6 separate regions of the Homo sapiens genome follow, and all the other regions are linked to region 6. Evidence: fine-mapped expression QTL. A gene starts in region 6. Each other region holds a variant in brackets. All regions are shown on one strand. Distances are from middle to middle. Region 1 overlaps NUTM2B-AS1 (NUTM2B antisense RNA 1). Region 2 has its middle 12 kb from the start of SFTPA2. Region 3 overlaps ZCCHC24 (zinc finger CCHC-type containing 24). Region 4 overlaps ZCCHC24 (zinc finger CCHC-type containing 24). Region 5 overlaps ZCCHC24 (zinc finger CCHC-type containing 24). Region 6 holds the start of ZCCHC24 (zinc finger CCHC-type containing 24).

Region 1 (5,071 bases), 320 kb after region 6:
TTTGTATTTTCGCACATTGAGAATATTTACCATGATTATTACACTGAAGAGCCTAACTATTCATTTACCCCATTTTTAAGATGTAGTAAAGACATTTTCCTCTGTGGAGGAAGCTATTGTGCAAGATTTTATCATGTATTGGCGGAAAATTTGAGTGTCTGAATTTTGTTTCACATATGTGTTCAGCTTTGCATGTGTATTTCTGTGTGCATATAGAACATAGAAAAGAGTCTAGATTAGAAGATAATGTACTGACAATGTTCAAAGTGATTATTTCATCACGCAGGTAATAAGCATAGTACTCCATAGGAAGTTTTTTGATTCTCTCCCTCCTCCCAGCCTCCACCCTCAAGTAGGCCATGGTGTCTCTTTTTCCGCTTTTTGTGTTCATGTGTTCTCATGGTGTATCTCCCACTTATAAGTGAGAGCATGCAGTATCTGGTTTTCTGTTTCTGCATTAGTTTGCTTAGGATAATGGCCTCTAGCTCCATCCATATTGCTGCAAAGGACATGATCTTTTTCTTTTTTATGGCTGCTTAGTATTCTGTGGTGAATATGTACCATATTTTCTTTATTCAGTCTACTATTGATGGGCATATAGGTTGATTCCATGTCTTTGCTATTGTGAATAGTGCTGCAATGAACATACATGTGCATGTGTTTTTATGGCAGGATGATTTACATTCCACTGGGTATATGCCCAATAATGGGATTGCTGGGTTGAACGGTAATTCTATTTTAAGTTTTTCAAGGAATTGCTACGCTACTTTTCACAATGGCTGAACTAATTTACATTCCCACCAGCAGTGTATAAGCGTTACAAAAGATTATTTATGAAGACAGAGATTATATGGGAGTATTCTTTTCTTTAGCATGTTCCTCTTTATTTTCTAGATTTTTTTTGCAGTGAGCATACCTTACTTCATGATGAGGAAAAAAATTGTTATTTCTCCAAAATGACTGAGCAGTTTGTATGAACACAATACTGCAATAAGTAATTACGGGAATTAAAAAAAAACTTTTTTTCTTTTTTGGAGCTTTCAATATTCACAAATAAATTGACGCTATGTGATAATATTTGTATTGCCTGTTATGTATCAGATACTTCTCCCATTTAATTTCACATACTCTATCTCCTTTAATCCAAATATAGAGAATACATGTAAATCCACTCCATGTTATTGTAAATAATGTTGACAATGAACATAGAGATGCATATTTTATAATAGTAAGTTACAAACACAAAGTAAAAATAGGCAGACAGAAAGCTATGCATAAAGACTAAAGGGAAAGCAGTCTAGATAGTGATAATTTTTTTCTACCAACTAAATTTACTAGTAGGAGCATGTATCCTTCCCATAATGGGAGAAAAAATGAACTTTTAATGATTTTTAACATATATGACAGCCATGGAACAATTCTGTGCTAACTTTGGGGTACTTATGTGCAGCATATTGGACATTTAGTGAAAAGAGAGACCACTGTGAGATGATGAAGCTGGAGAAGGCTTCAAGAAGCAATGCAGGGCTCCCTGAGTACTTTAAAGGAAGGGAAAGTTTCTTTAAGAATGTGGAAGGAGGACAAGGAGGACGTTATAGAAAGAAAATAACTTGTACAACAGCAACAAGAACTGGTCCATTTATAAAACAGGAGCTTGCTCAGGTGGTGGCTATGAGGATTAAGTAAGTTGGTGCACCTGGCATCATGCCTGAATGAAAGGTGCTCAGGAAATATTAGCCATCATGATGATGGTGCTGGTGAGAATGGAGAAGAGGGATGAATTCAAGACACAGTCCAAAGGACTAAATGGTAAACTTGTTCACAGTCTGGTTCCTTGAATAGAAATAAAAGTGCCAAATAGGCCTTCATTGTTTCTCTCCCAAGAGAGCAGAAGGAGAGTGCCCGTGTCAGAAGGGGAACAGGCTGGGGAGCTGGGCAGCAGGGGTAGGTGATGAGACAAGTTTGGGACACTCAGAGTTAAAAGTTTGGGAGGTAAAGGAAGTGTGGCCAGTGAGGCGGAGAACACAGAGGTGGCATCAGAGAAACAAGAGAGGGAAGATTTTTCAGGGATGTCATCAACTCTTCAGCCAGCGGAATGCAGGCGGAGTTGAAGAAGTGGAAAGAGAAGTCCCTCAGTGCTATACTAATTGTGTCACCACTTGAAGCACCCTGCTTTCCCTATTCTTGCATCTAATTGCAGTAC[G/A]CTACCATGAAACCAGTTCATTCTGTGCTCAATTTGCTGTTCTGCTTAAAGGGACTTAAACTTGATACCTGAAGGCCAGTTGCTACGGGCCATTACATTTATTTCCTTCCAGGCATTGTATGTAGATAAGCAATTAGATGAGGGAAAAGAAGTTGAGAGTCATTTATCATGGAGAAAAAAAAAAAAAACCATTCAACAAGGCTGTACAAGCAAACCTATTTAGATTGAAGAAAACATAACGTTTAATTCTCAGAAACAAATGCAAGCCTCGGTCCAAGTCTTCCTTCCCAAACCTTTGTCATTTAGGGATTGAGAAGCTGAGTTGGGTGAAAGGTTGAATAGAAAACAAAAAGGAAAGCTAGAAACACGCTGAGCTCATGGAGATGCAGCTTCTTCTGTAGCTCCTAAAGCCCAGCTGAGGTATCATCTAATGAGAATTCTCTCTATGCCAGGCACTGCGCTAAGCATTTCACATCATTAACCAATGTGAGTTTTAGGCAACCCCGAAGCAGGCAGTCTGTTCATCCCAATTGCAGCTGAGAAACAGGGTGAGTGAGGCCAAGCAGCTGGCCCAAGGTCCCCTGCCTGGTAAGTGGCACAGCCTGCAGCCCTGCCAGGTGGTCCTGCTAACCAAGCCGGCGCTTTTCTGTCACCATGCCGTATCGCCTCCCGTACTATCAAAATGTACTATCAAATTTACCTCAAAAGAAAACCCTCTGTCTTCTGAGAAGCTCCGGAAGGTCCAACACGTTGCCTGCCAACAAAAAAACATGAAGAGTTAAAAATTAGCTATCGTACGTAAATTATTAGCCATTTACATTGTATGTAAATTATGTTTCATTAAACTTTAAAAATTAGAAAAAGATTTTCTTCTGGTAGATTTCCTTAAAAAAGTGTTACCTTTAAGTTTTACACTTAAGTGACCCATGTTATCTGTTTTAATGAATAATTTTCCTAATAGAAAATTATTATGTGGAAAACTACGACGGTAGCGGGTGGCAATTTAGGATAAAAAGTGATCAAGTGAACTCAGGACAGCGAACTCTTTCTAACTGCGCACAAATATAACTGTCTATTCTCTTCCTGGTGGCATCAACTCAAAATTTCAGTTCATTCATTTATTCAGCAAATATTTATAAACCAAATGAACCATATGAAATCGCCATTCTTGTAGGTCAAAAATGGTCATATGTGGGTAATTCCAAATAGTTCAACCTAATATGAAGAACCCTCTGTGTGGTAGAATAGATAATATCATGGGAGCTGGGAATATAGTCTTGCATAAATGGACCAAGGTCCTGCCTTTATCTTGCTACATTCTGGTGGTCTAAGACATAAACAAGCAAAAAGATACATTAACAAAATTATCCCAAATTGTGATAAGAAATAAACAGGATAAAATAATTAATAACTTACTTGAGGTGAATTGAAAGCTACACTGAATAAAGAGATCAGAAAAAGTAAGGTGGATGGAACATCAGAGGAAGATCATTCCAGACAAGGGGAGAGGCAGGTTGAACGTCCATGAAGCAGATTGAAACTCCTTAGCAGGGCCCTGCTGAGTGAGGGGACTTGTTATTAGGGGAGTTCAGAGAAGTAAATGGAAGTGAGTTTTGTAGGGCTTCAAGGACCCTGACAAAGAGTTTGAATTTTATTCTAAGTTAGAAGAAAGTCACTGAAGGCTTTTTGCCTAAAGAGTTGACATGATTCAGTTAATGTATTAAAATATAACTTATGGTGATGGGTACAGTGGCTCAAACCTGTAATCCCTGCTAGTTGGGAGGTTGAGGCAGGAGGTTTGATCCCAGGAGTTCAAGGGCAACAGAAGGAGACCTTGTATCTTTTATATCTATATCTATATCCATCTATATCTTATGGGTAAAGGAAATATTCTATATTTTTATCATAGTGGTTACATGACTGAATATATTTGTCAAAACTCACTGGAATGTATACCTAAATATGTGAATTGCTGCATTTTACTCTATGCAAATTGTACCTCAAAAAACCTAACCAAAAACAAACAAATGAAAAGATAACTCTGAGCTGAAGCCATTAAAAATTATTTATCTGGAAGCTATTGGTATGTCTTGTTTGTTTGTTTCCTTTTGGTGGTATCATTTGTTGAACTCTGCCTGCTTAAACTCTGCACATGTATTTTTTTTTGTAAAATTAAAATTATATTTTATGAAAGATAACTCTGGCTACTGACTGGAGAGGAATTTATAAGACAGCAAGACTAGAGACTGGGAGACCATTTAGGAGACTATGGCAAGAAATGAGACTATGGCAAGAAATGAGACTATGGCAAGAAATAGTCGTGGTGGTGATAGTGGAACTGAGAAATGGGAATAACATTAAAAACATAATTTGGAAGTAGAACTGACAAGACTTACTGATGGGTTGGATGTGGGCAGAGGGGGTAAAGAAAAAGAAATCAAGGATGACTTTTGGGGTGGGGGTGTCCACATGGACAAGGCATGGTTGAAAAGAGGGAACAAACAGTTCAATGAAGGGTTTGTTTTGGACTTTAAAATATTTGAGGCGGCTATTTATTATTCATCCAAGTGGAGGAGTCAAGAAGGAAGTTGGACACAGAGGCCTGCAGTTGAAGGAAGAGATGAGGACTAAATCTGTATGTCATCAGTATACATACGATGTCTTAGTCACTTTGTGCTGCACAATATTACAGACTGGGTAATTTATAAATTATAGATATTTATTTCTCTCAGTTCTAAGGGCTGGGAAGTCCAAGATCAAGGCACCAGCAAGTTTGGTGTCTGATGAGGACCTGGCATCTTCTCACTGTAGCATCCTTACATGGGAGAAAGGAGAAGAACAAAAAGAGCTTAGCTAGTTCCCTCCATC
Region 2 (5,071 bases), 130 kb after region 6:
AGCAAATGTCTCCAAAGAAATAGACTCAGAAATTCTCTCTCTCTCTTACTTTGCACCAAAAAGATCATACTGCAGATACTCTTCTACAACTAGTGTTACATACCTCAGACATCCAGACATCTATTCAAATTCTGCAATTAGTGATTTCCCTTACATCCCTCAGGCATCTTTTCAGATGAACACATATAGACCTAATTATAACTATACTCTTTTCTTGGGGGTTGCTTGTTTTTAATTTTGGTAATGTATTCTTCACTATCTTTTTAACTTTTTGGAAAAACTTGTGCACCATAATAAACAAAAAAGATAACAGATAAGTTTACATTTCAGTGAGTTGTTACAAATTAAAACCTATAAAACTACCAACCAGTCAAAAAGTAAACTTTGCCAGCACCACAGAGACCTTCTTGTATGGTCAGTTTCTATGCCCTCTCTCTTACCTATAGGAACTCATTATTCTAACCTCTGTTGCCATTGATTAGGTTCCCTGTTCTTGAAATTTATATAAAGGACATACTTATACACTAGGGAATTTTGGGGTCTGGCTACTTTGGATCGCCATTGTATGTGTGAGATTGATCTATGTTGTTGCACATGGCAATAGTGTGTTCATTGCTGACCAATATTCTACTAGATGAATATATGACAACTGGTTCTTTACTATGGTGTTGACAGACAGTGATTTTTTCAGTTTCAATTTAGTATGTATAATGCTGATGTGAACATTCTTGTACATAAAGCTGTCAGGTTATGAGGTTTTCATATGTTAAAATATTAAAGTATTAAAGTATATTCTGGATGGGATTCCAAGATGGCTGAATAGGAACAGCTCTGGTCTGCAGCTCCCAGCGTGATTGAGACAGAAGATGGGTGATTTCTGCATTTCCAACTGAGGTAAGTGGTTCATCTCACTGGGACTGGTCAGAAAGTGGGTGCAGCCCATGGACGGTGAGCCAAAGCAGGGTGGGGCATTGCCTCACCTAGGAAGTGCAGGAGGTTGGGGGATTTCCCTTTCCTAGCCAAGGGAAGCTGTGACAGATTGTACTGGGAAAATCGGGAAACTGCCACCTAAACACTGTGCTTTTCCAATGGTCTTATCAAATGGCACACCAGGAGATTATATCCCGCACATGGCTCAGTGGGTCCCATGCCCATGGAGCCTTGCCACTGCTAGTCCCAGACAGAACTGCGAGGCAGCAAGCCTGGCTGGGGGAGGGGCGTCTACAATTGCTGAGACTTGAGTAGGTAAACAAAGCAGCCAGGAAGCTCGAACTGGGTGGAGCCCACTGCAGCTCAACAGCCTACCTCTGTAGACTCCGCCTCTGGGGGCATGACACAGCTGAACAAAAGGCAGCAGAAACCTCTGCAGACTTAAACATCCCTGTCTGACAGCTCTGAAGGAGCAGTGGTTCTCTCAATGTGGTGTTTGAGCTCTGAAAATGGACAGACAGCCTCCTCAAGTGGGTCCCTGACCCCCACATAGCCTAACTTGGAGACACCTCCCAGTAGGGGCCAACTGACACCTCATACAGCCAGGTGCCCTCTGAGACGAAGCTTCCAGAGGAAGGATCAGGCAGCAATATTTGCTGTTCTGCAATATTTGCTGTTCACCTGTCCTGGTGAAACCCAGGCAAACAGGGTCTGGAGTGGACCTCCAGCAAACTCCAACAGACCTGCAGCTGAGGGACCTGACTGTTAGAAAGAAAACTAACAAACAGAAAGGAATAGCATCAACATCAATAGAAAGGACATCCACACCAAAATCCCATATGTAGGTCACCATCATCAAAGGCCAAAGGTAGATAAAACCACAAAGATGGGGAGAAACCAGAGCAGAAAAGCTGAAAATTCTAAAAACCAGAGTGCCCCTTCTTCTCCAAAGGATTGCAGCTCCTCACCAGCAACAGAACAAAGCAGGACAGAGAATGACTTTGATGAGCTGACAGAAGTAGGCTTCAGAAAGTCGGTAATAACAAACTTCTCCAAGCTAAAGGAGGATGTTCAAACCCATCACAAGGAAGCTAAAAACTTGAAAAAAGATTAGACGAATGGCTAAGTAGAATAAACAGTGTAGAGAAGACCTTAAATAACCTGATGGAGCTGAAAACCACAGCATGAGAACTACGTGATGCGTGCACAAGCTTCAGTAGCGGATTCAATCAAGTGGAAGAAAGGGTATCAGTGATTGAAGATCAAATTAATGAAATGAGAAGTTTAGAGAAAAAAGAGTAAAAAGAAATGAACAAAGCCCCCAAGAAATATGGGACTATGTGAAAAGACCAAATCTACATCAGATTGGTGTACATGAAAGTGATGGGGAGAATGGAACCAAGCTGGAAAACACTCTTCAGGATATTATCCAGGAGAACTTCCCCAATGTAGCAAGGCAGGCCAACATTCAAATTCAGGAAATACAGAGAACACCACAAAGATACTCCTTGAGAAAAGCAACCCCAAGACACATGTTTGTCAGATTCACCAAGGTTGAAATGAAGGAAAAAATGTTAAGGGCAGCCAGAGAGAAAGGTCAGGTTACCCACAAAGGGAAGCCCATCAGACTAACAGAGGATCTCTCGGCAGAAACCCTTCAAGCCAGAAGGGAGTGGGGGCCAATATTCAACATTCTTAAAGAAAAGAATTTTCAACCCAGAATTTCATATCCAGCCAAACTAAGCTTCATAAGTGTAGGAAAAATAAACTCCTTTACAGACAAGCAAATGCTGAGAGATTTTGTCACCAC[G/A]AGGCCTGCCCTAAAAGAGCTCCCGAAGGAAGCACTAAAAATGGAAAGGAACAACCAGTACCAGCCACTGCAAAACATGCCAAACTGTAAAGACCATCGATGCTAGGAAGAAACTGCATCAACTAATGGGCAAAATAACCAGCTAACATCATGGCTAAATGCTCCAGTTAAAAGACACAGACTGGCAATTTGGATAAAGAGTCAAGACCCATCAGTGTGCTGTATTCAGGAGACCCATCTCACATGCAGAGATGCACATAGACTCAAAATAAAGGGATGGAGGAAGATCTACCAAGCAAATGGAAAGCAAACAAAAAAGAAAAAGAAAAAAAAAAAGCAGGGATTGAAATCCTAGTCTCTGATAAAACAGACTTTAAACCAGCAAAGATCAAAAGAGACAAAGAGGGCCATTACATAATGGTAAAGGGATCAATTCAACAAGAAGAGCTAACTATCCTAAATATACATGTACCCAACACAGGAGCACCTAGATTCATAAAGCAAGTTCTGAGATACTTACAAAGAGACTTAGACTCCCACACAATAATAATAATAGGAGACTTTAACACCCCACTGTCAATATTAGACAGATCAATGAGACAGAAGGTTAACAAGGATATCCAGGACTTGAACTCAGTTCTACACCAAGCAGACCTAATAGACATCCACAGAACTCTCCACCCCAAATCAACAGAATATACATTCTTCTCAGCACCACATCACACTTATTCCAAAATTGACCACATAGTTGGAAGTAAAGCACTCCTCAGCAAATGTAAAAGAACAGAAATCACAACAAACTGTCTCTCAGACCACAGTGCAATCAAATTAGAACTCAGGATTAATAAACTCTCTCAAAACTGCACAACTACATGGAAACTGAACAACCTGCTCCTGAATTACTACTGGGTAAATAACAAAATGAAGGCAGAAATAAAGATGTTCTTTGAAACCAATGAGAACAAAGACACAACGTAGCAGAATCTCTGGGACACATTTAAAGCAGTGTGTAGAGGGAAATTTATAGCACTAAATGCCCATAAGAGAAAGCAGGAAAGATATAAAATTGACACCCTAACATCACAATTAAAAGAACTAGAGAAGCAAGAGCAAACAAATTCAAAAGCTAGCAGAAGGCAAGAAATAAGATCAGAGCAGAACTGAAGGAGATAGAGACAAAAAAACCCTTAAAAAAATCAATGAATCCAGGAGCTGGTTTTTTGAAAAGAAAAGCAAAATTGATAGACTTCTAACAAGACTAATAAAGAGGAAAAGAGAGAAGAATCAAATAGACACAATAAAAAATGATGAAGGGGATATCACCACCGATCCCACAGAAATGCAAACTACCATCAGAGAATACTATAAACACCTGTACACAAATCAACTAGAAAATATAGAAGAAATGGATAAATTCCCAGACACATACATCCTCCTAGACTAAAGCAGGAAGAAGTTGAATCTCTGAATAGACCAATAACAGGTTCTGAAATTAAGGCAATAATTAATAGCCTACCAACCAAAAAAAGTCCAGGACCAGACGGATTCACAGCCGAATTCTGCCAGAGGTACAAAGAGGAGTTGGTACCGTTCCTTCTGAAACTATTTCAATCAATAGAAAAAGAGGGAATCCTCCCTAACTCATTTTATGAGGCCAGCATCATCCTGATACCAAAGCCTGGCAGAGACACAAACAAAAAAAGAGAATTTTAGACCAATATCCCTGAAGAACGTTGATGTGAAAATCCTCAATAAAATACTGGCAAACCGAATCTAGCAGCACATCAAAAAGCTTATCCCCCATGATCAAGTCGGCTTCATCCCTGGGATGCAAGGCTGGTTCAACATATGCAAATCAATAAACGTAATCCATCACATAAACAGAACCAAAGACAAAAACCACATGATTATCTCAATAGATGCAGAAAAGGCCTCTGACAAAATTCAACAGCGCTTCATGCTAAAAACTCTCAATAAACTAGGTATTGATGGAATATATCTCAAAATAATAAGAGCTATTTATGACAAACGCACAGCCAATATCATACAGAATGGGCAAAACCTGGAAGCATTCCCTTTGAAAACTGGCACAAGACAGGGATGCCTCCTCTCACCACTCCTTTCAACATAGTGTTGGAATTTCTGGCTAGGGCAATCAGGCAAGAGAAAGAAATAAAGAGTATTTAATTAGGAAAAAAGGAAGTCAAATTGTCCCTGTTTGCAGATGACATGATTGTATATTTAGAAAACCCCATCATCTCAGCCCAAAATCTTCCTTAAGCTGATAAGCAACTTCAGCAAAGTCTCAGGATCCAAAATCAATGTGCAAAA
Region 3 (5,071 bases), 55 kb before region 6:
GGGGGGCTCACAGGAAGCTGGTCAGGGCCAGCCTGGGGCCACATGCCCAGGAGAGGGGGCAGAACCTGGACTGCAGACCATGGCCCGGATGACAGGGGAGGGCAGCAGAGGGTGTGCTCTGTCCCCCTGGCCAGGCTGTGAATGGCTCAAAAGTAGTATACTGGCTTCTCCACCCAATCCACAGTCTTGGCCCCAAGAGGACACTCAGAGCGGTCTGGGAATGGAAGAGTCAGAAGGTTCTAGAAGGCAGGTGGGGAGACTGTGGTGGGAGGGTTCTGATCCAGGGACCACCCTTCTGCCCCTGGCCCAGGGGTCATAAAACCCATCCCTGTGCTCCCAGGCTTAAAGTCACAAAGCCAAGGCCTGGAGGGAAAGACAGGCACGTCAACCACATCACAAGAGGCTTTCAGGTGACTGGCTTCCCTGTCCAGCTTTCATCCTGGCCAGGGAAGAGAGGAGTTGGACTTCCTGTCAGACCTGGGCTCGAATGCCGGCTCTGCTACCTAAGAGCTGTGTGACCTTGGGCAGGCCACCTGTCCCCTCTGGTCTCCATGCTCCCATCTGTGAACAGGGATGCTGATAACAGCTTTCTCATGGGCTTGTTCTCACCAGACAACTCAATGGAGATAATGAATACAAACAGCCCGGCATGCAGAAGCTGTCTGTCGTTTGTCTTATCGGTGGGAGGGGGACACCAGCTGGTGGAGGGCTATCAAAATTAAGCCAAGATCCCAAGGTGAAAGGACCTAGGAAGGGCACGTTCCCTGCTTTCCTGGACGTCCCAGGGAGACCTCCAACAGCTCCTCCATCTGGGGCTTGGGTGCCCTCAGGGCTGGAGAGCTGCCTGCTGGCAGAGCCCACCGCTCAGTTTACTGCCTGCACTGTAAGAAGACTTCCCACCTTGAGTTAGAATCTGGGTCCCTGTCACCTCATCCTGGAGATCCCAGCCACACAGACTCTGCTTGGCTCCCAAAGGACGGTCTGATCAGTACAGTCGTGAAGTGTCCCCTCCAGCACACCAAAACAAAGCTGGTTTGCAGCCCCCACCCCCTTGACTGGCCAGGGCCTCTTCCTGGACCCAGTCTTCCAGGACAGGCCAAAAAGGCCAGACTCAGCAGGCCCCACACAACCCTCACTCCCCATGGCTTACACATTATGTGGCAAAGTACTGCCACCTAAGTCAGGCCACCTAATGTCGCCACCTAATGTCACCACCTCCCTGTGAGTGGCACAGGGAGGAAACAGGTCACAGATATATGGGGAAGGGAGTTTCCACAGATGAGGCAACTGAGGCTCCAAGACGTTAGGGACATCCCTGGGGCCTGCAGTGAGGAGGTGGTAGGTAGGGTGGCTGGAAAGCCACACATGCTGTTTCCAAGCCCTGCACTGCAGGGACATACTGCCTACCGCCTGCAGCTGGCCCCACTGGCTACACTGTATTGGGGCTCAGGGCCAGCTTGTGACCAGTGCCCACCCCAGACTGCAGCACTCCCTCCCAGCCCGTCTGAGTCCCTGGCTTTCTGTCCCCAGGGCAGCACCCTCCTGTGTTTGATGGAGGGGAACGTGTCTTCACAGGCACAGCGCTCTCCCCTGGGAATTCACTGGCACCTGCCAGCTGCACCCACCCTGACTGGCATCTGCCTTCTGAGTCTTCATCTCTGGGGCTGACAGAGGTTTTGCAGGCCCAGGACTGAGGGCAGAACCTCCATGGAGACTGAAGGGGTCACTGCCAGCTTGTTTTGAAGACTGTTCTGGAAAACTCTGTGTCTGGTGTCTTCTGCAACGTCTCCATATGACATGATATCACCAAAGTCAGATAGACAGAGCTTTGCATGCCAGCTCTGCCGCCTATCAGCTAAGGGCTGTTGGGAAGGATCTTTCTCCTCCACAACCTCAACTTGCCCTTTTGGGATCTGGGTGAGAGGTTAATAACATTCACTGACTTTTTCCTAGTGTGTGTGTGTGTGTGTGTGTGTGTGTGTGTGTGTGTCTGTGTGATAGAGAAGTAAATAAGATGACTGTCTTATTTTTATTTTTTATTTATTTTTATTTTTTCAGACAGAGTCTCATTTCTGTTGCCTAGGCTGGAGTGCAGTGATGCTATCTCGGCTCACAGCAACCTCTGTCTCCTGGGTTCGAGTGATTCTCCTGCCTCAGCCTCCCAAGTAGCTGGGATTACAGGTGCACACACCACCATCCATCTAATTTTTGTAGTTTTAGTAGAGACGGGGTTTCGCTGTGTTGGCCAGGCTGGTCTTGAGCTCCTGACCTCAAGTGATCCAC[C/A]CACTTTGGCCTCCCAAAGTATTGGGATTACAGGCATCAGCCACTGCGCCTGGCTGACTGTCTTTTTTAGAGACAGGGTCACTCTCACATAGGCTGGAGTGCAGTGAATCCTCCCACCTTAGCCTTCCAAGTAGCTGGGACCACAGGCATGCACCACCATACCTGGCTAATTGTTTAAAAAAAATTTTTTTATAGAGACGAGGTCTCACTATATTGACCAGGCTCATCTTGAACTCCTGGGCTCAAGCAATCCTCCCACCTTGGCCTCCCAAAGTGCTGGGACTACAGGTATGAGCCACTGTGCCCAGCTGCGATGATTGTCTTAAAGTATTTTATAACCATAAAAAGCTCCAGAAGACTTAGTGATTGCTGTGTGACCTTTAGCAAATCACTTAACTTCTCTGGGACTCAATTTTCTCCTCCATAAAATGGGGGCTAAGTCTGTAGGCTAACTCTACATGATAGGGTTGCTGTGAAGAGTAAATTAGTCTATGCAAAGGGATTAGAACAGTGCCTGGCACATAGAGAGCATTCAAAATGTTGGCCAGTATTGGTATCATGTGTTATATAGGGTTAGGGGCAGCATGGGGGCAGGGGAAACAGCGAAGTCCCGGGTGAAATGATCTTGAAACATCCTTGCCAGCACCCTCCTGGGCTCATCTGAGCTGTGCCCCCTCCTTGGCCATGACCCCATGGTGGGAGTTCCCTCTGTGGGCACGGGCTCTGGCTCGACTGCTCAGCCCTGCTTGGCCTGCCACTGGGCGAGGAGCCTGGGGAAGCTGTCAAGACATTCCCCTCGGCAGACGGAAAACACTCTGCAGCTGGGGCTGACTGTGGTGGAGGGCCTCCCCCACTCCCTGCAGCAAGGCAAGGCCCAGTGGTGTTTTCTTCTTGAGGGGACCGGAGTCGGTAGGGGGAGCTGCAGCTGGAGGCCGACAGGAAGCAGATGTGGCGGCCAGGAGAGTGGGGAAGTGGGGGGTTCTCCAGAGACGGAGGCCACACAGGTCAGGGCTCTGTGGGGCAGGAGAAATAAACCAGCCCTCTCCACCGCGGGGCAACATGGGGAGCACCGCCGCTGGGCTCTTCAAAGGCTCCCGACAGCTGGGGGATAGAGAGGCACCACTCTCATACCCCCTCCCAGCTTGGGAGCTCAGGAGAGGAGATAGAGCCCTGGGCGGTGGGAGACCTGAGTTCCAGGGCCCCTTGACACCAGCTGACTGGTCACTGGTCACTTGACTACTCAAGTCCTGTCTCCTTTTGGGGCCTCAGTGTCCCCAGTGCACACAGTAGGTGCTCAACAGTGGCCTAATGACTGGAAGAGGGGAAGGGCCCAGCCACACACTCTTGAGGGATCCTTTAGATTGGGTCCTGGGAGAGCTGATCCTGAATGTGGAGATGGGGGACAGGTGGTCAGGGAGCTGTGCTGGGACTGAGCTTGGCAGGATGGAGATGGCGAGGCAGGTGGGGCCGTTGCCAGCTTGGGGATGGTGACACAAGCCAGGAATGGGCCTGGCATTGTGGAAGGGGCATGGTGAGGAGCCCTGCCCAGCCAGAAGCTGGGGCAGTATCGGGGCAGGGGCTGAGGGCTGGAGCCACTGCGGAGACTGGGTTCCTGTGGGGCTTTGGTGCACAGGCTGGGCCCTGTCTCTCTGCTTAAGTCACAGTGGGGGTCGTAAGGACCCAGCCCCCAGGACTGTCAGCACAGACCCCAGCAGCCCCCATACATCTGAGGCCCTGCAGAAACTGGGCTGTTCCTGACTCCTGCCCCCAGCCAGCCACCATTATCTGCCTTCCCTCCTCCCCTGCTCCCTCCCAGGCCACTTATCTGCCCTTCCAGGCTCCAAGCTATCCTCCGGGCCCCCGGTCTACTGACCTTCTACCCCATCAGAGCTGTCTTACATCTCTCCCTCAGGGTAGCCTTCCCCCAGTAGCTCCCGGAGCGCTCTCCCCTCCTGCCTCCTCTGTCTGCTTGTCCTTTGCGGTGACTCAGTACACATGGATGGCCCATCCCACCCCTGGCTCCTCCATCCCCCACTACCTCATCGACAGTGACCTTTCCCTCCTACCACCCCTCAGCCACACCCTAGACTTGGGCTTCTTCAGAAACCACCCATCTCTGCCCCCTCGTTCTCTCCTTCCATTCCACTGGCTCCCAGACTCCACCCAGTCCACAGGCCCACCCGGCCTCCCTCTCCACCGGTCCCGTCTAGCTTCCCTTCCCTGCCGATGCCCCACGATGAAGCACGGTCATCATACTTTTACAAATAGGCCCACCCCCCAACCATCTGCCCTCTGGAGTGCTCGCCCAGCCAACCTTTGCCCCGTGGACCCTCCGTACACCAGGCCTGGCCTGCACCTGCCAGGCGAGCTGTGCTGGAGCAAGTCACGGAACTAGGCTGATGCCTGCCACTGCATTAGGATTGCACACCTCCCTGGGCCTGGGATGCGGCTGGGTGGTCCAGCCAGCTTTCCCTAGCAGGCTGCTTCCTTGCTCATCCTTCCTCAAGCCCGCCCCAGCCCGCTTGTCTCCCATTCACTGAGAAAACAGAAGCCTTGGATGTGAGGTTCTTCTTTGCACCATCCAACCCATGAAACTTCCTAATTACCCCCTCTTCTCCCTCCCTCCTGTGCCGATGGGTGAAGCATCCCCCGTTTTGCCCCTGCACCATCAGCCCTTTGCTGTCTTCTAGATCATTCTCACCAGACTGCACTGGGCTCCAAGCTCTACTATCTCCACAACACCCAGCCCAAGGGCTCCTTCCCAGTTGCGGCCACTGCTGTGATTCTC
Region 4 (5,071 bases), 32 kb before region 6:
ACACCATTTGCTCCTGCTTCATTTGTCTCTACTCAAGTTGTCATGTCCTCAGAGACACCATCCCTGACAACTGTCTTTGAATATGACCTGCCACCATAGCATATCCATTGGTGTCAATTTCTTTACTATTTGTCATCCTGCAAGATTGGGAACTGCATTCTTTCCTCATCTTTCTTGTTCACTATGGAATGTCCCATGCCTGGAGCAGCACCTGGCACATAGTAGGTACTCAATAAATACACGATGACCAGTCAGACAAAAGTAGCATGCTTGAACACTGATCTGGCCTTCTGGGATGTGCTCAGGATGAGCAGAGCCCCATGTTCTGGGAGCATCTGGCCAGCATGGCTGGGGAGGAGTGACGTCACAGTGGAAAGGGCCCTGTGGGGCTGGAGCAGCCTGTGCAAAGGGCTAGACCACGGGAAGCATGGAGGGCTTGAGGCTTGGAGGCCAGGCCAGTCCAGGTCCTAGACCATATCTTAGAGTTAAATATCAGCCCAGGAGTATGGGAAGCCAGGGAAGCGCTGAAAATGCGAAAGTCTGCCTGGCATTGTGAGATCTCTTTGGCTGCTGAGTGGACAGAGGGGTTGGACATGGGGGGACCAGTTAGGGGGGTGCTGCCACATTGCTGGGGAGAGGTGGTGGGGGTGTGGTCTGGGGATGGGTGGCAGAGGGGAGAAGAGTGAGAGACCCCTGAGATGGCAGGAGGTTGAGTCAGCAGCACTTGGGCTAGCCTTGGGGGAGGAGAGCAAGGACTCAAGAGCAACTCCCAGGTGTGTGGCCTCAATCAGCTGCGGGGCTGTGGGGGCTGAGGCAGGAGCTCCCCTCTTGGCCCATGGTTGCCCTGGCTCTGACTGGGGGACAAGGCCAGGGTGGAGCAAGGGAAGGTGATGACGGTGTCTTGTGCCGGCAGTGATGGACGGAAGGAGGACTGGCCGTCACTGGACAGCAGGCAACAGTGATGGATGGCAGCCTCATGATAACTGTTTGCCCTGGCTCCTGTCCTCAGGAATCGCCTATAAACCTGTCATGTGAGCCTGCTCAAGGTGCCCTTGGGGGTATGATCCACCCTAAAGCTGATTTGAAAATCACCTCGGGGCTGGTAAAAAGAGGCCTTGACCTCTGTCTTTAGATTTACAGTCTAATGTGGCCAGGCATCCTGGCATGGTGCTATAATTAAACACACACACACTCCCCTGCAGGTGAGCAAATAGGCTCAGAGCAGGAACCATGTGAACACAGGCCACGGTGGCAGGCCAGGGCTTTCCCCACTGTTCCAAGTTGCCTGCTGGGCCCCAAAACAATTCTTCAGAGCCATGAAGGAGGACTCAACGGAAGGGGTGTTGAGTCTGCAGCGGAAGAAAACCCAGGAGGGAGAGGATGGAACCAGATTCTAGAGGGAAAGGTGGCCCCAGCCTCCCAGGGCTCAGTGTGCCCAGTATATGCACAGAGCAGGACTGCCAAAGTCTCATTCCACTGCCCACGGGTGCCCCACTTTCCAGAGGAGGAGGCCAAGGCCAGGGGACTCCAGCCCACACAGCCTGTGAGAGGCAGGGCCAAGCTCAGGCCTCCTGGGATCCCAGGCCAGTGCTAGGGAGAGTCTGAAGCAACTGTGAGGACAGAAGAAGGGTCAGGAGACCTCCAGGAGGCCTCGGCCCCTCCTGGAGGTGCCATGCTCAGCCCCAGGACCCTGCCATCCCACTCTGAGAAGGTTTCTCAGCCCCAGAGACCTGCTCTGCCAGGGCAGGACCCCCAGCAAGTCCACCGTCCCCAGTCCCTGGAGCACCCCACATGTGCCCCTTACAGAGCCCTGGCTGTCTCTCCTGCCCTTCCCTGGCTCCCAGAAGCCCAGAAGGCCAGAATCTCGCGAGTGGGAGGAACCACGTGGGGAGTCTTGGCTTTTAGAAGCCCTGGAGCAAGGACTTCCTGCTACGCCTCCACAGGGGGCATTGAGCCTGTGCCCTGAACTGGGCCTGGGTGTGCACAGGTCTGCAGCTGCACATGCACACACGCATGCATGCACACAGGGAGCGAGCGGAACGCACCGTGGCATGACCTGCCAACTCCGTTTTAAGTCAACTGACAAGGAAGTGAGTGGCCAAGGCAGACCCATGGCTCCAGAACCCCAAGGGAGGTAGCTCAGGAGCTTCCTGCTAAGCTCTTGGGTCCCCTGGACTTGGCAGCAGCCTGCAGCGGCATGAGCCTCTGTGCGAGTGTGCACAGGTGCATCGGTGAGGGGCGGACATGCCCGTGTACACCCTCGCCCCTTGGCAGCCCCGCGTACGTACATGGTGTGGGTGGCTGTGCAGAGCCCTGTGTGTTCCACCCATCTCCAGGGACTGGGCAGCCACAGGCAGCTCCAGATTTCTAAAAGTGATAAAAATAGCCACATGGAAAATTGGGAGAATCCCACCGAGGGAGGAAAACAGGCAACCACTAGCATCTCTTCTAGAAAATGTCTTTCTATTTCCCTGGCCGTGGACTGCCTGCAGCCACGTAGAGAGATGGCCACCATCCATCATGTGGCCCTGCGTCCCCTCTTCTAGCTGAGTACGAAGTGAAACAGAGCTCTGGCTGTGCGGTCCTGGAGACCTGGGTTTGAATCCCAACTTAGCCATTACTGGCGGCAAGAGCTTCGACAAGTTTCTGAAATGCTCTGAGCCTTGGTTTCCCCCGTGTAAGTAGGGATAATAAGATCGATCAGGCAGGCAGTCGAGAAGCTTTAAGGAGCTCATGAGTACCAAGCACATGGCTGGAATTCAGTTAACAATAGCCACCATCAACATCATCATCACCATTTTCTGGACATCTGCCTAAATCTCAGGTGTCCAAGGCCTTTGGACTCTATCTCCTCTACCAGCCAACCTTCTGAAAGCCCAGGAGAGTCTGCAATCCATC[A/C]TTTTATCTCTGAAGGATTATATGGAAGTCTACCCAGACACCTTCAACAAACACAAGCCACTCATCCAAAATGGGTTCAGTGCTGAGGGGACCAGTGGGCGGTGGATGTGACCAGCCTCTGCCCCTCCCCTCCCAGCATGCTGGGTTTTCCCCTGGGGTCTCATTTAATCCTCACAGTAACTCTGTCAATTACCATCCACCGGCCCACAGCATGGAGAGGCCCAGAGAGGTGGAGAGACTTTTTCAAGGTCACACAGTGAGTGAGTGGCGGGACCCCTCCCCACGCCTGACTCCAGCCCAGCCTCTGCCTCCTGGCCTCTGAGCCTGATGTGCACTGGCACAAGGCGGGCACCCGTCCTGGGGGAGTGGAACGGAAGACTGTGGTCAGGCAGGCAGGAAACGGCCAGGAGGTCATGCGGGGGCAGGGGGAGCCTCTCCTGGGCCTAGTGAAATCCGCCAGGCTACAGGCTTTAAATGTGTAATCCTGAGTCACCGGGCTGGTCCCTGTCCCCTTGGAGGGACCTGAAAGTCAGCTATAGAAAGCTGATGGTTCTGTGCAGAAAGCCAGACCTGGGCCTGACTAGCTGGAAAGGACCATGCAATGACAACCGGGAGTTCAGGGCCCTGGGTTTGGATGCCAGCTCTATCAGGCATGTCACCTCCTCCTTCTGGGCCTTAGTTTTCCTAGGTGGAAAAAGGGTATATGTGCGTGCGCATGTGTGTGTGTGTGTGTGTGAGAGAGAGAGAGAGAGAGAGAGAGTTTAGGGAGGTGCTTCGGATGTGATAGCCTCTAATGTCTAAGCCAGTCTGACACAGAGAATTCACAGCTTTGCTGTGAGATGGGTGGATACAAGCAGCAATTCGGGGATGTAGCTGTATGTCCACCTGCTGCCCTCCTTGCCGCATGGCCACATGTGCCCCTCACACTTGCTCCACCTTCCAGTCCTCTACAGCCAGTGTTGGAGGAAGAGCCAAAGAAGTGAGAGCTCCGTGGGGTCTCTGTTCTCCCCACCCTCACCCCTTCCACCAAGACAGGCTCTCCAGGCCAAGGAGGTGAGGGGGCACGTGTCCCAGCTTATACGATCACCACCTTGTCTCAAGGAGACAAAGTCTGGGCCCAAGCCTTGGCGGCCAACTGCCCAGATGGAATGACAGGTCACAGAGTTGCTGAATTTAGAATTTTAAAAAATATTAGTGCCACAATAGCTTAAGTTCTTGGAGTCTCTAGAATTTGGGATAATGAATGTGTTGGAATTACAGACATGGAGAATCTTCATTTTAGAGAAGAATAATAACTGCAGTTGGAACACAGAAACACACGGAAGGTTTCAGAAGCACGTACTTGAGGTATACAGAATGATTATAGAATCTCACACTCTTAAAGTCACAAAACCAGAACACTCAAGTGTCAGAATCCTCCATTGTGGGAAGCTTCACTTCTCAGAATAATAAAGCTGCAGTCACATGACCTAGGGAATCTGAGGTTGAACATCTGGAACCTCTGGATATCTAGAACCTCTGGAATGTTCATTTGGGAGTCTCCCGGAACCTTGTAATCTTGCATTCCCAGGACCTCAGGAGGATAATTGTGGTTATGATCACCTGCAGCCACCACAGCTGCCAGAGCACCCCACCATCTCAGACCTGGCAATGGTGCTTTTGCCCAGCTGCACGTCAGAATTACCTGGGGAGCTAGGAATATGCCCTTGGCCAGGCCCACCCTGGATCTACTGAATTCAAATTTCTAGCACCAAAAACCAAACCAAAACCAAAAAAAACCCAGGTGGTTCTAATGTGAAGCCCGAGATGGAATCACTGATCTTGTCTAACCTCTCCTCCATATTACACATAGGGAAACAGAGACTGCAAGTAACTGGCCTAAGGATACACAGCACTGGTCCCCAGGCTCTTCATCAATGTCAGGCCTCCCAAGCCTCTACTTGCTTCCTCTACCTGGACCCCTTGGGTCCAGGTTTCCTGTCCCTGACTCACCGCATCTGTCTCAGAGGACTTCTGCCCCTGGGGTATTCCTAATGATCTTGGGTACCATGAAGGCTAAGACACAGTGAGACACACTGAGTTGCTAGGCTCACAAAGCCAGCCCCTCCCGTCCTCCCATTGACATGCTCAAAACCTCCAGGCTGCTTCAAGGGAGGTTGCTAAGGTCATCAAG
Region 5 (5,071 bases), 26 kb before region 6:
TGTGCTGTTAATATGTTTCCCTTATGACGGGGCCCTGCTCAGAGTGGGCACCACGGCAGACACTGTGGATGGCGCACTGAAGCCACAGCAACGCAATGGCTCACACTTGCTGAGCACTCACTATGTGCCAGGTGCTGCGCTAAGTGATTTTCTGCCAGCCTTCCCCCTCCCCGGGATCACAATCAAAAGAGAATACAAAATACTAAGCCGTTTGTGCAGGGTGTTTTGGGAACACAGAGGGAGGACTGATGCATGGGGAGGGCTCAGAGGGCCTGCGGGAGGGAGGGGCACAAGGCTCTGTTTGAGCTTCACAGTCCCCAGGAAGGAGCAGAGGAGCATGGGCCCCTGTTGGGTTTTACCCCTTGTCATCATGCCTACTGCTTTGGGGGCACCCCTCCACCTCACCATCACCCCAACCTGTCAGGGAGAGACCTGTGGCTCCCACACAGCCAGGGAACTTGGAGGAAGCCAGGCAGGGAGGAAGGCCTGGGTTCACAGTGCCTCCTGCAGCCTGATTTCTGCCAGGGCTGGAGATCAGCAGGTCTACAGCATGTCCTAGAGGATGGACCCCCATCCGTTGTTGTGGGCAGAGGGAGCAGTGGGAAAGGCACGGCCTAAGGTCAGACTGACTTGGCCTGATCCTAACCAGCTGTGGGACCAGGGGCAAGTTATGTAATCTGTTACAAAAGAAAAGAGGAAGAAAGGATGAGAGACAGAGATGAAGAAAGAGAAGAAGAGTGGGCACATGGGCCACAGATGACATCCAGGTGAGTGTAAGAACCCAGCCAGCAAATGAGACGAAGGTGCTCCGTGAGCCAGGCATGAGGAAGGCCTGATGTCCTCGGGCTCCTCACCCCCATTCCATGCACATTTCTTCCCTGCACCTGCTGCCCCGTTTCTCTGAGCCCTGAGCCTTGGAATGGGAGGGAGTGGGGGCGGTGTGTTGAGGAGCCATGTCTCCAAGTCAGGCCAGGTCAGTGGTGCCAAGTCCTCTAACCCACAGGCTGGGATCTGGCCACCTTGCCCCAGCTGGGCCACCTCCCACTCCACACAAAGCCACTGGGAGCAGGAGGCACCCAACACAGGCTCCACCCTGGGCAGCCACCCCAGACATGGTGGAAAGGGAAAATGCTGCCCTCACAAATATGCCTCCAAGACCCCATGGCAGTTGAGGCAGGGGTCAGCTCACAGCAGCCACCAAGGCCTAAACACCCTCGCTCGCACACCTCTGATCATCTCAGCAAATGTGGCTGCTCGCTGGGCAGTGGAGCAAATGGTATAACTTCACAGTTCTCAAAGCGCGTTCACCTGTCTGATCGCCTCTGGATCTCACAGAAGCCCTGAGAGACAGGCTTCATTGCTGATGCCACTTCATGCATGGGGGTGTGGGGGCCCAAGGGTAAGGTCAACTTGGCCAATGTTGAACAGCTAGAGAGACAGCCCTGGGATGAGAGCTCGGGCCTTCTGACCCCAAGGCCATGCTCCCTCTGCCTGCCAGGCAGACACAGACCTCGCCTGGGAAGTGACCTCAGGAAGTAGGAGACAGACTTGTGCCAGGACCGGCCCTGGGCTAGGCACGACTCACCAAGGCAGGAGCACATGGGGCATAGAAGGGCATAGGGGCTGCACCATGCAAGAGGACGTGTTTGGGCTGAACCTGGGGGAGATGAGAGAGTCACTGGCTAAGGCCATAGCACAGGTGGAGTGGGGATGAGAAGGCTGAGCAGAGGTCAAACGGCCCAGGCTGGGCTACCTTCCAGGACTGGGGCAGGGCAGAGTGAAGCCCACCCAAAGAGGGGCATTCTCTGTCCCCTAGGGGCCAGATGGGGATGGGGGAAAGATGAGAAACCTGGTTGAGATTTCTTACCTCTTGAGGGCCTTAAAACCAGGTTCTGGGGAAGGGGTGCTGTCCTGACAAGTTAGGGTTCAGAGAGGAGAGCTCTGAGGCCCTGGATGGTTGGGGAAGACTCCCTGAGAGAGGTGGGCTCAAGCTGGGCTCTGAAAGGGGGATAGGAGAGAAGAGATTCGGGAAAGGCATTGCAGACTCGGGGACAGTGTGAGCAAGGCCTTGAGGCTGAGAAGCCCAAGGGGTGTGTGCATGCACGCACGTTTGCATGTGTGCACATATGTGTCTGCGTGCATGCATGAAATTAAGCAGCTGCAGGGGTGGGTCAGGGAGAAGGAGAGGGGCTCCGGTGGGTGTTGCTTCCCAGGTATCCGGGCTGCTTCTCATCTCCCTCACACCAACCCTCCCATCAGGTACATGAGCCTCACTTTACAAATGAGGGCAGATCTGGCTCAGGAAGCCCCACGGCCTAACAAGTGATACCAACAGTGAGGGCTGCCACTTACTTACTGAGTGCTTGTGGGATGCCAAGCCCTGCATTAGACGCTTTCCACACACACTCTGCAAGGATGGTGAACCCATTTTACAGATGCCTGGGAGAAGGTGGGCAACACGGCGAAGGACACACAGCTGGGAAAGAGCAAAAGTGAACTCTGAGTCCAGCTCAGTGAGACTCCGCTGCCTGGGGCTCTCCTGTTCTTACTGAGGTTGAGGGACCAAGGGATGTCCCAGCCAGAACCTTCCCCGGAGTCTTCACAGCAAAGGGCACTTGAGTTACTCCAAGACAAAGGAAAGCCATGTGAGAGGGGCAGGCCAAGGGCCTGGCACACTGGAGGCCCTTGGCAGGTGAGGAATAAATGAGTGAGTGAGTGAGCCTTTCTGGCATTCAGAGGAGGCCAGTCCCTCTGAGCTTGGAGGAAAGGAGAAATCAGAGAGGGCTTCCCAAAGGAGGTGACACTTGGAGCTATTCAGCTTAAGGATGCACTTGCTGTGCTCCAGCATTCCATTCACTAGGCCTTGCAGGTAGTTCAAGACCAGGACTGGTCCTGGCTCCTAGGCTCTGCCAACATCTCTGTCCCTAAGGCTCAGAAGCAGAGGGCTGGGAAGGTGAGGCCATTGACCCATCGAGATTCCTGGGGACTCCTAATTATCATCTGCAATTCTTCTAAAAGCAGAACTGGCAGCTGAGGATGTGAAACTGGCCCTCCTAGGCTCTTTCCTGCCAGGCAAGAGGCAGCAGGAAGGATATAAAAGTGGCTCCCCATGAGCCCTCACACTCCATGCCC[C/T]ACCCCTCCAATCCCCCACCCCTGCTCCACCCCCAGCAGCTGCTCCTAGGCAAGCACTTGGAGAGAGATTCCTCTTCCCTGGGCCATAGGGGAACTGACAGCCCACAGGCGGCACTGGGCACCTTCCAGCTGTGCATCGCCCCTCCTCCCACAGCACCCATCCTGGGCACAGCAGAGTCCCCCCAGCACAACCTGGGGGACTCAAAGTCATCTGGGCCTTCCCCTGTCCCCTCCCCAAGACCCCTGAGAAAGCACAGCCTTGTCACCTGGCCTCTCTGCAGCCCCTCCCAGAGGCAGCCCCTCCCTTAGGGAATGAGGGTGGGAAGGGAGGGCTCCAGCCACCTCTGTGGATCCCCACAGTGCTGAAGCAGTCTCTTAGAACCCTGGGACTTCTCAAGCCAGTTTGAAACAGCGGAATTGAGGCATAATAATAACGACAGTAGGCTGGGCATGGTGGCTCACGCCTGTAATCCCAGCACTTTGGGAGGCCGAGGCGGGCAGATCACTTGAGGCCAGGAGTTTGAGACCAGCCTGGCCAACATGGAGAAACCCTGTCTCTACTAAAAATACAAAAATTAGCCTAGTGTGGTGGTTCATGTCTATAGTTCCAGCTACTCAGGAGGCAGGAGAATCGCTTGAACTCGGGAAGCGGAGGCTGCAGTGAGCTGAGATCATGCCACTGCACTGCAGCCTGGGCAACAGAGCAAGTTTCTATCTCAAAATAATAATAATAATAATAATAATGACAGTAATTAACAGTCCTAAGAGTTACTACTTGCAGTGCAAGCAAGGTGCCAGGCACTGTTATAAACACTTCAGATAAAATAACTCGGTTAAGCTCACAACATCCCATGAAGTAGGATGTTTTAATATCTTCATTTTACAGAGGAGGAAACTGAGGCCTAGAAAGACTGAATGAATTTTTCCCAAAGGCACATAGCACTGCTGCTACAAGGCGGCGCCAGGGGTGGAACGCAGGCAGGCTGGCTTCAGGGCTGTGCTCGAAGGCACCTCACTGAAAGGAGAGGGCTTCGGCAGGGCAAGGAGGAGAGCCTCGAGGCCCGGACACTGGGTTTGGGGCACTACCCTAACGTCAGCATCTATGCCAAGCCACCACCTGCCAAACGGCAGGCACGACACCCCCAGCAACACCCATCCCAGCTGACATTCTCTGAGTGCTCACGACATTCCAGGTTCTGTGCCAAGTGCTGGAAGAACCTCAGCTGAGGCCCCTTGGCCAGCCAGCCCAGGCTCCAGGAGAACCCCCTGCAATGCTACCTTCAGCACCCATCCCCTGCTATGCCATCTGCCCTAGGCCCAGTCCTTCCTCAGTGGGAACACAGAATGATGCTGTCTGTCCTCCCTCTTCTCCCTCTCCCTTCCCCCTCCCTCCCTTCCTCCCTCCCTCCCTTCTTTCCTTTCTTCCTTTCTTCCTTCCTTCTGGATGTTTGCTAATGAGTAATGGGTGGCAGTATAACACTTTCTTTGCTAATTCCACTGTCTAACATTCAAAGGGCTTTTTGTCTGTGGTGTTACCTTTCTGCCCCTCCCTGTATGCATTTTTTATATTTATTTATTCATTTATTTTAGAAATGGAGTTTCGCTCTTGTTGCCCAGGCTGGAGTGCAGTGGTGCGATCTCGGCTCACTGCAACCTCCACATCCTGAGTTCAAGCAATTCTCCTGCCTCAGCCTCCCAAGTAACTGGGATTATAGGTGTGCGCCACCACACCTGGCTAATTTTTTTGTATTTTTAGCAGAGATGAGGTTTCATCATGTTGGCCGGGCTGGTCTCAAACTCCTGACCTCAGGCGATCTGCTCACCTCGTCCTCCCAAAGTGCTGGGATTACAGGCATGAGCCACCGCACCCAGCCTTCTATACATTTTTTTATGACAGGCAGTCCTTAGCCCCAGTGTTGTGAGAAAACCTCAGTTTCCC
Region 6 (5,071 bases):
TGGCGCAGACAGGCCGTGGTCAGTGGTCAGCATGCAAGTCACATCCGCAGGCACTGCCACTGGGCCTGCCAGGCCTCGCACAGAATGGTGATGCTCCTGGGCCCCCTGGGTCCCTCCGTAGAGTCCCCTCCGGCCCACACACGACTTGCTTCCTCTCCGACCAGCCCCTTGGTGGCATTGGGGTGGGGGGTATTTTTTCTTGCCTTCTCAGCCAGTTGCTATTTTGGAGCCATATTAGGTCACCAGCTAAGCCCTGGGCGCAGGAAAGGCCTGTCCTCAGGAACACAGCTGAGGCTTTGAGAGGGTTTAGGAGGCAAAGTGGGTGGGGGGTGAGGATGAGTGAGCCTGAAGCCAAGAGAGCCTTCCGGAAGTCAGCAGGCACAGCCCTCCATCACCTCCGAGGAAGCCACTGGCCTGTGAACATCAGAGAAGCCCCTCTTGACTCCCCCAGCCCTCTCTTGTTTGAACAGGTCTCAAATACTATAGATATACCATCCTGGGGTGTAGCAGAGACTAAATTTAACAGATAGGTAAGCTAAGGCCCAGAGAGAGACGGGGTTCCCTGAAGTCAGGTTGTGAAAGACATTTCCCCACCACTGCACTATACAGTATAACCTTTTCCTGCTCCTTTCACACTGTGTGACTTTATGGGGAAACTGAGGTACGCAGCAATGAAGTGACAGAGGGCAGTTCTCACTGAGCTCCGGTTGGGATCCTGGATGCCAGAAATTTTCAAAAAGCAGCACAACATCCTATTCTTATAGGGTACTCTTGATGGTTCCAAACTCCCAGGTCCTCTCAGGGGAGACCCACAGGTGGGGAACAATGCCACCATGGTAGGGGGAGCAGAGGGAGGCTAGAAGAGGTTGATTAGGGGTCCACACTTGACCTGTGGGTCATGTTCACCCTTCTCCCAGGGTGAGAAACTCCCGTGGGGCTCCCACAAGCACCCCCATCAAATCACCCACCATTCATACCCTCTATCACCTTGTCTGTTTACTCATCCGTGGCCCCCACTAGCCTGTGGCTGTGAATCCCCGGGTCCTGCCCAGAGCTCAACAAATGTTTGGTAAGAGAACAAACAACTGAAAAGACGCATGCACCAAAGAAACACCCCACAAACGGTCCTCCAGTCACTGGTCACCTGAAGCCAATTCCCTGAAGAGGCAGAAAAGTCTCTTACAAGAAAGAAAGATCCCCAGCCAAGAACCATTCCTCACGTGGAGAGAATGCTTTACAGTTTACAAAGAGCTTTGGCATAGAAATGCTTTTGCCTGACACCAAAGGGTGCACTTTCAGACTCATCTTCCTCCTCTGCACCCAGCCCCCTCCCACGCCTGTTCTACCCACCCAGGTCAACAGGTCAGCCTGGGTAGTGTTGGCCTTGGGCCAGCATTTTATATGTCCATGCCTCCCCTAGTAAATAATGGCAGAGTTGAACTCAAGGGCGACCCTCTGCCTCCCTCTCTTACCCCCAGCACACCCTTGCGTACATAGGCTTTCCTCCCCAACCCATTCAGGACTCTGACTCTCCTAAAACTCACCGGTGTGCCCAGGTCTGGAAGGAAAGTGACCCCCATGTGTGTCCTCCCCCGAACACACCTCTTGCATCTTTGCAGAGAAAACCCCCACAAGGGGAGGAAGTGAAGGCCACAGATGGGTGTCTGAAATTCCCAAATGAGGCAGGAGTAAATGGAGGGAGGGGAGGAGTCCAGCCCACGGAAAGGAGTGGTATCTGGGCAGGCCCTGGAGACTCTTCAAAAAGGGCTGGGAGGTGGTGGCGATCTGTGTATTTATCTTGCTGGCAAAGAGGCGCTGCCCAGTCAACTTTGTAACTGAATCCACCAAACAGGCAGACTTTGCAACACAGCCGGCCCAGGTTTCTGCAGAAGGCGCTGGGCAGCTGGAACCTCTCCCCCCCCCTTTCTAGCCCCCCTCCCAAGAGCTCAAGAGGATTTCCCTTTCATTTCCTTCGAGGCTGGGAGGGCTGGGGACAGCGCAGTCTGTGGGGTCAAGCCCTCAGAAACCACTTCCTATGTGGCTGGGGGAGGGCGAGCAGCTGGAGGACGTATCTGGGGTCCCCGAGTGAGAACAGCAGGAGAAGCCCTCTGGGCAGTCACTGCTCTCCAGGGTGCCTTTCGGGTCGGGAACCGCAGAGGTCGGAGAAAAGATTTTAGGCCCTTCCAGAGGAGCTCCGAGCAGAATCTGCACTCTCGGTCCCAGCCCGCGGTGGCCAGGACGAGGATAAGGTTGGGCGTGAGAAGGACACTTCGAAGGGGCTCCCCGCCCAGGCCGCACCCCAGCTGTCTGAAGAAAATCCGGAGACAACCCCTCCTCAACTCCCTCCCCCAACCCCTTTGGAGCAGGGCTGCCCTGGCAGGGAGAGGGGGCGGGAGAGCTCCGCCCCGGCCTGCATTGCTCCAGCCCGGGCTCAGCCGGGAGGTGACGCGCACCCGGCACCCCGGGGACTTCGGGCGGCGAGTTTGGCAGAGTTGAACGAAGCCAAGCCAAGCCGGGCCCGGCAATGCGGAGCCGGGCCGCGCCAGGCCAGGAAGAGCGGGTCAGACAGGGAACGGCCCGCCACGGTGGGGCGGTGGGGCGGTGGGGCGGTGGGCGGGGGCGCGCGGGGGCACCCACCTCTCCGCGCTGCAGCTGGAAGAAGCTGTTGAGATAGCTGGAGTGCAGGGGCGAGCCCAGCTGCTCGGGGCGGCCCTTGCCGAAGGCCAGCTCCGGGGGTGCGGCGCCGGCGGTCGGCTCGGGCCGGAAGGCATCGAAGGCGCTAGCCTGGTGCGTGTCCTGCAGCGACAGGTAGACCCAGTTGAGCAGCTGGGCGGGCTGGTACACCGAGGCGGCGCTCGTGTCGATGGCCGACAGCAGGCTCATTTTGTGGCGGCGGTGCCGGCCCCTCCCCGGCCGCCCGCTCGCGGCCCCCCTCCGCAGCGGAGGGGCGGGCACCGGGGAGCCTGTGCCCACTGCCCGCCTCCCGAGCCCCGACGGTGATCGCCCCGCGCCCTGCGCCCCGCGCGCTGCCCGCAGCCGCTGCCGCTGCCGCCGCCTCCCCCCGACTGCGGCCCCGGCGCGCGCAGGCGGTGGAAGGAGGCAGCGAAAGTTGGGCAGGAAACTTTTGGCCCCGCCCCTCCGCCCCGCCCACTGCGTCCCGCCCCGCCCGGCGATCCGCTATCTGCCTCGCGGCTGACCCCTCCAGCGGCGGCTCCGGGGGTGGGGTCCACGATGCCCCGCCGCCCACTCCCTGCCCCGCCTGGCACTGTCCTCGCCCTGCATTGGCTGTCTCGTTGAATATGAACCGTCAGGGGTGGGGAGAGAGGGGAGTGAGGCTCATCTGCATATGCAGCACGGCGCGGGCCCGCCCATGCGAGGCCCCGCCCAAGCCCCACCTCGTCCCAGCCCGGCCAACCCAGCTCCCCGAGCTGCCGGGAGCTCAGTGCAGCCCCGGCCTAATCAATTTCGTCTCCCTCTGTCGTCAGCGCTCTTGTCTCGTTCTTTCCAAATCCTCTGCAATTGTTTTTCACTCACTTTTCCTTTCCTATTTTCCCTCCTTTCTCATACTCCTTCTTTCTCTCTCTCTTAGACTAGTACTAGTCTCCTGTGTCCGTCGTCCTTGTATGTGGCGCCCTCCGTGTGTGTGTGTGTGTGTGTGTGTGTGTGTATGTCCTTCTCTTTCTCTCACTCTTCTTGTCTCCTTTCTTCTATTTCCGTCTGGTCTGATGTTTCTCCCTGTCTCTCCCGCTCCTCTCTCAGACGCGTGTACACAGACGCACACACTTCTAACTCCCTCCTCTCGCTATCACCATCGGACCCTCCCCCTCCTACTTAATTCCTTCCATCTGCAGAATCACTTTGCGGGCCGGCTGCGCCAAGGGGGGCCCGGGTTCCTGCCCCAGGAAAGACTCCCCGCCCCCTCCCCCCCCCCTTCTCCTATTTCTGCTCTGGGCCCGCCTCGCTTCTCGACCCTCTTCCTCCACCCCGGCTCCAGCCCTAGCCCGCCCCGGTGCCTTGGCGAGTCGCCAGGACACCAGCCTGGGCCGGGGGAGCTCGGGAAAGCGGCTGTCACCCATCTCGCTGGGACAACTCAGCTAGTCCAAGACTGCCTGGAGGGAGCCCCGCCCCCGCCTCCGCCTCCGCCTGACGCCCCAGGAAGCCCCGGGGCCTTCACCGTCTCTTTCTCCGGGTGGTCTTTGCTGCGCCAGCACCGGGGACCTAGCCCAGAGGAACTCACCGCCTGGCTGGGACCGAGTCACCTCTCCCACTTTCAGTCTGGCTCTGGAGCCATTCCGCCCAGCGTTGGAGTGCCAGCTTGGCCACCGTCCAGCGGAATGACCTCTGCATGACGCCTAACCTCTGCGAGCAAGCCTGTTTTCTCCTCTGTAAAATGGGAGCAGTCATCCTCCCGCCGCCGGGGACATTTGTGTGCTTCCCAGCTTGGGTTTGGTAAGCGGAAGATATTCCATAAAGGACAGCTCTTCCCCGCCACCCACTCCACGAGTTACTCACATCACCTGCAGGGCACCTAACCACATCTATGGTCGCTCGCACCACGAAGGCCTTCAGTGATGACCAAATGCCACCCTTTTTCACCAACCAAGAGGCCCTTGGATCTCAGATCTCCATCTTGTCTATCAATTTGCAGTTATTAATACAAACGACAGCATATGTATCAATCATGTCTTCATATTTTCATTCATCAAGAACACATCTATACAGTACCCTTTATATTTTTAAACAGTATTAAACCTATTTGTTTAAAGAGTAGGTACACGGTTCTTGCAAATGGCTCACCTGTAATCCCAGCACTTTGGGAGGCCAAGGCAGACAGACTGCTTGAGCCCAGGAGTTCCAGACAAGCCCTGGAAACATGGCAAAACCTCATCTCTACAAAAAAATGCAAAAATTAGCCGGGCGTAGTGGCGCATGCCTGTGGTCCCAGTTACTCAGGAGGCTGAGGTGGAAGGATCACTTGAGCCCAGGAGGTGGAAGCTGCAGTGAGTCGAGATCATGCCACTGCACTCCAGCCTGGGCAACAGAGTGAAACTTTGTACCCCCCGCCCCCACA

The links. PIP is the estimated chance that this variant, and not a neighbour inherited with it, causes the effect.
Region 1: its variant is fine-mapped to the expression of ZCCHC24 in whole blood (INTERVAL, PIP 0.98).
Region 2: its variant is fine-mapped to the expression of ZCCHC24 in whole blood (INTERVAL, PIP 0.94).
Region 3: its variant is fine-mapped to the expression of ZCCHC24 in whole blood (TOPMed, PIP above 0.99).
Region 4: its variant is fine-mapped to the expression of ZCCHC24 in whole blood (INTERVAL, PIP above 0.99).
Region 5: its variant is fine-mapped to the expression of ZCCHC24 in whole blood (TOPMed, PIP 0.98).

Annotation. Positions count from the first base shown.
Region 1 is chr10:79,763,368-79,768,438 of GRCh38, forward strand. It overlaps NUTM2B-AS1 (NUTM2B antisense RNA 1), which reads right to left. Exons shown (of 7, transcript NR_120613.1): 6 at 2,904-2,957. Among named protein-coding and RNA genes, the nearest start is that of NUTM2B-AS1, 61 kb to the right of the region's middle. The variant G/A (reference allele first, on the strand shown) is at 2,204.
Region 2 is chr10:79,569,590-79,574,660 of GRCh38, forward strand. No RefSeq gene overlaps it. Among named protein-coding and RNA genes, the nearest start is that of SFTPA2, 12 kb to the left of the region's middle. The variant G/A (reference allele first, on the strand shown) is at 2,741.
Region 3 is chr10:79,387,578-79,392,648 of GRCh38, forward strand. The region is part of intron 3 of ZCCHC24 (zinc finger CCHC-type containing 24); the gene reads right to left. Among named protein-coding and RNA genes, the nearest start is that of PPIF, 43 kb to the left of the region's middle. RefSeq lists enhancers at 2,727-3,312, 2,973-3,082 and a cis regulatory region at 3,238-3,738. The variant C/A (reference allele first, on the strand shown) is at 2,284.
Region 4 is chr10:79,410,147-79,415,217 of GRCh38, forward strand. The region is part of intron 2 of ZCCHC24 (zinc finger CCHC-type containing 24); the gene reads right to left. Among named protein-coding and RNA genes, the nearest start is that of ZCCHC24, 33 kb to the right of the region's middle. RefSeq lists enhancers at 2,752-3,262, 3,263-3,771. The variant A/C (reference allele first, on the strand shown) is at 2,899.
Region 5 is chr10:79,416,923-79,421,993 of GRCh38, forward strand. All of the region lies in intron 2 of ZCCHC24 (zinc finger CCHC-type containing 24), which reads right to left. Among named protein-coding and RNA genes, the nearest start is that of ZCCHC24, 26 kb to the right of the region's middle. The variant C/T (reference allele first, on the strand shown) is at 3,133.
Region 6 is chr10:79,442,558-79,447,628 of GRCh38, forward strand. ZCCHC24 (zinc finger CCHC-type containing 24) reads right to left here and starts at 3,067. Exons shown (of 4, transcript NM_153367.4): 1 at 2,638-3,067. The coding sequence starts at 2,883. It overlaps LOC105378383 (a long non-coding RNA gene), which reads left to right and starts at 3,684. Exons shown (of 4, transcript XR_946104.4): 1 at 3,684-5,071. RefSeq lists silencers at 2,920-2,979, 2,990-3,499.